Homo sapiens: one gene and its partner. The protein of the gene in region 2 purifies or fractionates together with the protein of the main gene of each other region. This does not show direct contact. Each region holds a gene or a part of one and is shown on either strand. Other genes may lie near its edges.

Region 1 (3,755 bases), on a different chromosome or scaffold from region 2:
TCAATCTAAGTATCTATCAAGGGATGAATGTGTAAAGAAAATGTGGTATATGTACACAATGGAATACTATGCAACCATAAAAAAGAATGGGCTGGGCACGGTGGCTCACGCCTGTAATCCCAGCACTTTGGGAGGCCGAGGCAGGCAGATCATGAGGTCAGGAGATTGAGACCATCCTGGCTAACACAGTGAAACCCCGTCTCTACTAAATATACAAAAAATTAGCCGGGCGTGGTGGCGGCTGCCTGTAGTCCCAGCTACTCGGGAGGCTGAGGCAGGAGAATGGCGTGAATCCAGGAGGCGGAGCTTGCAGTGAGCCGAGATGGCACCACTGCACTCCAGCCTGGGACTCCAGCCTGAGACTCCGTCTCAAAAAAAAAAAAGAATGAAATCTTTTCATTTGTAGGAACATGGGTGGAACTGGAGGTCATTATATTAAGTGAAAAAAGCCAAGCACAGAAAGACAAGTATCACATGTTCCCACTCATATGTGGGAACTTAAAAAGTTGATCTTGGCCGGACAAGGTGGCTCACACCTGTAATCTCAGCACTTTGGGAGGCCGAGGTGGGCAGATCACCTGAGGGTGGGAGTTCGAGACCAGCCTGACCAACATGGGGAAACCCCATCTCCATTAAAAATACAAAATTAGCCGGGTGTGGTGGTGCATGCCTATAATCCCAGCTACTCGGGAGGCTGAAGCAGGAAAATCGCCTGAACCCAGGAGGTGGAGGTTGCAGTGAGCCGAGTTCGTGCCATCACACTCCAGCCTGGGAAACAAGAGCAAAAACTCCGTCTCAAAAAAACAAAAACAACAAAGTTGATCTCATAAAGGTAAAGAAAAGAATGGTATCAGAGGCTGGGAATGTTGCATGTGGGGGTGGATGAAGAGAGGTAGTTTAATGGGTACAAACTTACAATTAAATAAAAGGAGTAAGTTCTAATGTTTTCTAGCATAGTAGGGTGACTATAGTTAACAATAATATATATTTCAAAGAAGCTAGAAGAGAATAATTTGAATGTTCCCAACACATAGAAATGATAAATGTCCAAGATGATGGATGTCCTAAAGACTGATTTTATCATTACACATTCTGTGTATCAAAATGCCCCATAAACATGTACATATATTATGCAACAATAAAAAAATACCCATTACCGATGAAATGGACAGAAGATGAATATTCAACATTCATAAATGTTTGAATAAACAAGCATAAATTAAGACAGCTTGAAATTAAAACTGTATTTTAAATTAGAAATCCCTGCTTAACATCACAAACGTGAACAGAGAGAGAACATTCAGTTGCTATGGTCAGTATGCAAATTCTTATTACTACTCAGTCTGGAGTTCACCAGCTCTTTCTGTCATACAAGTCAGGCAAAACTGTGTTCTCATTTTCAAAAGTAATTTACCTTGTAATATACTTTGTTCCCATCATGATTCTTTCATGTTAATTCATCCTGATCAAGTAATCTAGAATGTATGCAACCTATGTCCACTTTCTTTCTTTCTTTGTTGAGGCAAGGTCTCCCTCTGTTGCCCAGGCTGGAGTGCAGTGGCACAAACATGGCTCACTGCAGCCTCAGCCTCCCAGGCTCAAACTATTCTCCCACTTCAGCCTTGCAGGTAGCTGGGACCACAGGCACGTGCCACCACATCTAGCTAATTTTTTAAAAAATGTTTTGTAGAGATGGGGTCTTGCCATGTTGCCCAGGCTGGTCTTGGAACTCCTGGGCTCAAGCGATCCTCCTGCTTCAGCCTCCCAAAGTGCTGAGATTACAAGTGTGAGCCACCACCACACCCGCACACCCGACCACCATCAATTCTTTTTTTTTTTTTTTTTTTTGTGCAGCGGAGTTTTGCTCATCGCCCAGGCTGGAGTGCAATGGTGTGATCTCGGCTCACCGCAACCTCACCTCCCGGGTTCAAGCAATTCCCCTGCCTCAGTCTCCCCAGTAGCTGGGATTACAGGTATGCGCCACCATGCCCAGCTAATTTTGCATTTTTAGTAGAGACAGGGTTTCTCTATGTTGGTCAGGCTGGTCTCGAACTCCCAACCTCAGGTGATCCTCCCGCCTCAGCCTCCCAAAGTGCTGGGATTACAGGTGTGAGCCACCGTGCCCAGCCGACCACCAGCAATTCTTGACCATAATTTCAACTGTCTCAAAGTGAAAGGAGAGCAATTATGCTAAAAATCCTTTAAAATTACCTCTAAAGGCTTCCATTTGTTTCTGAATACCCGTATGCATACAAAAGTCAAACATCAAATCCACATATTCTTCTGCATTATCCATTGTTATCATCTGCAAAAGAAAATTTGTCAGTATCTAGGAATATTTCAGGAGTGTCTAGTACAACTGGCCTTGCTAAGAGGATATGTCAGAACTTACAACTATATTAAAAGCAAACTTTTTACCTCATCTTCACCACTTGGCTTGAGATCCACAGCTGTAAAACCATATATTCTTGAGGAAGGGCAAAACTGGAAATTTAAACTGGGAGGACAAAAAAGATTAAATTAACTGACATGCAGCTACTACTAATGGTGTTTAATTTTTATAACATTACTATCATCTGCCATCAGTGGGTACAAGAGAAAAAATTAAATAAAATAACATGGCTATCAAAACCATAAATCCCACCCCTCTCCTCCTCCAACAAAATCAGTACACCAGCTTAGAAGTAAGTTGAGGACTTTTTAAATGCAATATTCTATGGACAAAATCTACTAGGCCAACTGTTATCAAATCTGTCTGGCTTTGCAAAGATTGCATGAAACCACCTTTCTATATTTTACTTCTAACTTATGGCACAAAATTAATGAACTAAAAATTTTGCAATGAATTATGACAGCAACATGTTTGTAAGACTTTTAGGAAGAAACTGTTGCTTTACTGAAGTCAATCACGCTGTGTACAAAAATATATATTAAAAAAAACCTTGAATATATAACCATTTATCAAACACAGTTTACCAACATTATCAGCAAACATTAAAAAAAAAAGGCCTTGCAGTTAACCTAAAATCACAGCTGAAGATATGATAATTACCTGTACATAAAGTAACAGAGTTTTATCAAAAGTTCTGCAGCATCTCAACTGCTACAGCCTTTGGTGATAAAGCTGACATACCAACCAATTTTTGAGCTTTGCAAAGTGAATCATATATTAGCAGATGAATTTGTCAAAATATTGTTGGCTCTGGACATTTTACACAGGCATATAAATTCACATTGGCTAAGTCAGGTAATCTTCTAAAGGTTTGATGATTAATAAACTAATATTCTAGTATTCTGAGTGTTGTCTTTATAATATTAAATCAAAGGTTCAAGTCGATCATCAATATTTCCTACAGCATATTACTGTTTTTGACAGACTATTTACTCATATATTGCAAATCAGTGACGACAAAGAAACAAAAGCTTTAAAACTTATTCATGCATTGGATTGAAGAATGTACATATAATGCTTACCCTAAATCCTCTATGCTAAGTGGAGGCCCAGAACCTGATGGATTCTTCAGCACTAGTTCCTGTAATTTTGTGTTCTTCTCATCTTCAGAAAGACCTTTGTTGCTTAAAATTTGGCGCCTCTTGATAGCAAGGTCTTTAATTTCTTTTAAAAATCTGGCTCTGTGTGGGTTTACTAATTCAAAGTCTTCCCAAGTCAAAATTCCATTAAACCAAGCTGGGGGTTTTGGTTTAGGGGGATCAAGAATAAATTCTGATTTTGAATCCTCTTCAAAGCTTCCTAC
Region 2 (3,755 bases):
TCCCCGGCTAATTCTTGTATTTTTAGTAGGGATGGGGTTTCACCTTGTTGGTCAGGCTGGGCTCCTTACCTCAAGTAATCCGCCCACCTCGGCTTCCCAAAGTGCTGGTATTATAGGCATGAACCACTGCACCCAGCCAATTTTTACCATTTTTAATATACATATAAATCTATAAATGTTTGTTCCTTTATGTGAAACAAAAAACTAGCCAACTTATCTGAGACACTAAGGTTTCTACAGATGATAATTACCTGGTGTTTTCAATTAGAAACAGACATATGTATAGTTACATATATTGAATAGATATATATACATCCACACATACATATTTGTGAGGTAACAGCATCATTAATTACTTTTGGCTCTTTCATCTTGTCAGCATTACAGAATGTGTTGCCCTTATGCATTAGTAACAATTTAAAATACCTTAACGTAGAAGGAAATCACTTAAAAGAGCCCAAATAATCAACAGAGTTATTTAAGATTGAGTCTGTCTGTAGGAATTGAGTCTAAGGTTAGAGAGATGTGGGGACAACAGAATCACACTTGTCATTAAGGCCTTTGAGACACATGTATTATTTGGCTAAAAAATGCATGACTACAAAATAAAATAAATACCTTCATATAGGCAAATTCCTTCATGGCAGAGAGACGAGATAAATATAGCCATGACACATTGTGCCTATGTTTATGATAATCGCGTTTGTTTTTCAAATTTCGAAACGAGGTTCTTCCTAGTCTGTGAAGCTTTAATGCAAATTGTTGTCCTTCTTCATTTGCAACAATGTAAATATCTAGAGACAAAATTTCAAAAACAACCATTATTACACGTTTATTCCAATCAGTTAAAACAATTCTAACTTTCTCTAATTTTATTTGTATCAAAAATGTCATTTTTCCTAATAAAGATTGAGTATCCCTCCTTATCCAAAACCTTCGGACCAGAAGTGTTTTGAATTTTGGATTCTGGTATATTTGCACATAAATAATGATATATCTTGGGAGTTATTAGAAGAAAATTAATTCCTGGTATAAATGAATTTTCAGTGATAGACGTTCAGAGAAAATAATAACCTACTAATTAAGGACACCTTCTGATTTGTACTGCTTCCAATCAACTTTCCAACTTACTGTTTAGTTAGAAAAAAGGGAAAATTAAAAGAGGAAAGGTTTCTGAAGGGAAAACATAAACTAAAGCAAAGAAAATACTTTGCACAGTACTATTAGCACTTACCTGATTCTTTGCCAACACCCATCTGGTTTCCAACAGACTCAACTACTTGCCTAGAAGAAAGTGTTTTCAAAGCTAGGTAATCATATCCTGCATTTGTCAACCGATAGCCCTGGACAGCTAGACAAAAATCAAAGCATAAAGACCATATTTCAGTTACATTGTACAACCAAGTCACGTAAGTTCAAGTCATAAGAAAGATTTAACAATAAAGTCTTCATTGGAAAAAGATAAACTGCCCAGGCTCACAAGCTTCCAATTTCTTCCTATAATTTGCATTTCTTCTCCAGTGTACTGATAATCAAAATGTGACCTACAGACAGGTCTGTAAGTGTTTGTGACAAGATAAAAGGAGGAATTTAAGTTCAATTTGTATATCAATTTGACCTAGAATTTATGTCTGTTTTTGTATATCTGTTATCCATTTCATTTTTCTAGTAATTATTTTTTTGTATTTTATAAAAGTAAGGATCTGTGATAGGTTGGAAAAAACTAATCCTTCACCACAGATGGTTTCAGAAGTAATGATCTAGGGTATGACTACTGATTGTATTTTCCAAAGATGGTAGCCACAATAGCTTTATCCTATATGCTCTTCTGCAGTACCTACATGCTCTTCATGCTCTTCTACAGTACCTACATGCTCTTCTGCAGTACCTACATGCTCTTCATGCTCTTCTACAGTACCTACATGCTTTTCTGCAGTACCTACTTGCTCTTCTGCAGTACCTACATGCTCTTCTGCAGTACCTACATGCTCTTCTGCAGTGCTCTACCTGCTCTTCTGCAGTACTCTACCTGCTCTTATGCAGTACCTACGTGCTCTTCTGCAGTACCTACGTGCTCTTCTGTACTCTACATGCTCTTCTGCAGTACTCTATGTGCTCTTCTGCAGTACCTACGTGCTCTTCTGTACTCTACATGCTCTTCTGCAGTACTCTACCTGCTCTTCTGCAGTACTCTACCTGCTCTTCTGCAGTACCTACGTGCTCTTCTGCAGTACCTACGTGCTCTTCTGCAGTACTCTACATGCTCTTCTGCAGTACTCTACATGCTCTTCTGCAGTACTCTACGTGCTCTTCTGCAGTACCTACATGCTCTTCTGCAGTACCTACATGTTCTTACTACTATTCTTTTTTCACCTCCTTTGATCTGGGTGTGCCCTGTGATTATTTTGACTAATAGGATATGGCCGAAGTGTGTTCTGTCAGTTCTTCGTCTAATGCTTTACTAGTCTGGCAACTTCTACTTCTTGACTTTTGGAACACTTGCTCTGGTGGAAACCAATTACCTGAAAAATCACAAATGGTGCCTCAAAATACTTACTTTTGGTACGCTCCCAAGCTATGAGTTTATGTTTCACTAATTCTCTTAAAACTTTATTACAGCCACCATGTTTAAGGCTGGCTATAGAAGCAATCAAACTGCCGGGAACAATTTCATGGTTCTTCATGCCCATTTCAACCTGAAATTAAAGGAATCATTATATAATCATAATCAACACAAAGCCTTGTCTATCAAAACCCTGCGAAATTAACTTCTCCTTGAAGCTTTCCTGACTATGCAGTTCTCCAACTAATTCTGAGACATAATCACTTCCGTCTCTTGAAAATATTTTTAATTGCAATTTGAAATCTAATCATTGATATTTGTATTGGCTTTCCATTTCAAGAGTAGGAACTGTGAGTGCTAGACATACTGATGACATTTGGTCAATGCTAAAATACTTGATGACACCTAAACATTTGTCTTTAAAAACTACAGATATGCCAGATATTTATTAAGCAGGTATTTAATGAGAAAGTACTACATGTAGGCATCGTAGAGGATATATATATATATATGAATGATAGACTGGATAAAGAAAATGTGGCACATATACACCATGGAATACTATGCAGCCATAAAAAAGGATGAGTTCATGCCTTTTGCAGGGACATGGGTGAAGCTGGAAACCATCATTCTCAGAAAACTAACACAAGAGCAGAAAACCAAACACCACATTTTCTCACTCATAAGTGGGAGTTGAACAGTAAGAATACGTGGACACAGAAAGGGGAACATCACACACTGGGGCCTGTCGGGGGGTGGGGGGCTAGGGGAGGGATAGCATTAGGAGAAATACCTAATGTAGATGGGATGGGTTGATGGGTACAGCAAACCACTATAGCATGTGTATACCTATGTAACAAACCTGCACGTTCTGCACATGTACCCCAGAACTTAAAAGTATTTTATATATATATATAATATATATATATAAAATATATATATATTATATATATATAATATATATATAATATATATATTATATATATATTTTTAAATTTATTCCTCAGAGGTAAAAAGCACATATATATATATCTCTATCCTACATGCTCTTCTGCATGTGTATATGTATATATATATATATGTATATATATATATATATATGTGCTTTTTACCTCTGAGAAATTTTTATCTCATGATGGAAATTTTAAAAAATGGTATACATCTAAGTTTATTAGAAGTTAAGAAGTGATAA

The links. Proteins that work in one complex are often made in the same cells at the same time.
Region 1: the proteins of RIOK2 (region 2) and HECTD1 purify together in Homo sapiens (affinity purification with mass spectrometry; 2 studies listed by BioGRID and IntAct, with this or other methods). This does not show direct contact.

Annotation. Positions count from the first base shown.
Region 1 is NC_000014.9:31,103,172-31,106,926, forward strand, and holds part of HECTD1 (E3 ubiquitin-protein ligase HECTD1), read right to left. Parts: coding exon 3,475-3,755; intron 2,498-3,474; coding exon 2,419-2,497; intron 2,306-2,418; coding exon 2,212-2,305; intron 1-2,211. UniProt on the Homo sapiens protein: E3 ubiquitin-protein ligase which accepts ubiquitin from an E2 ubiquitin-conjugating enzyme in the form of a thioester and then directly transfers the ubiquitin to targeted substrates.
Region 2 is NC_000005.10:97,176,498-97,180,252, forward strand, and holds part of RIOK2 (serine/threonine-protein kinase RIO2), read right to left. Parts: intron 2,697-3,755; coding exon 2,558-2,696; intron 1,352-2,557; coding exon 1,235-1,351; intron 795-1,234; coding exon 619-794; intron 1-618. UniProt on the Homo sapiens protein: Serine/threonine-protein kinase involved in the final steps of cytoplasmic maturation of the 40S ribosomal subunit. Involved in export of the 40S pre-ribosome particles (pre-40S) from the nucleus to the cytoplasm.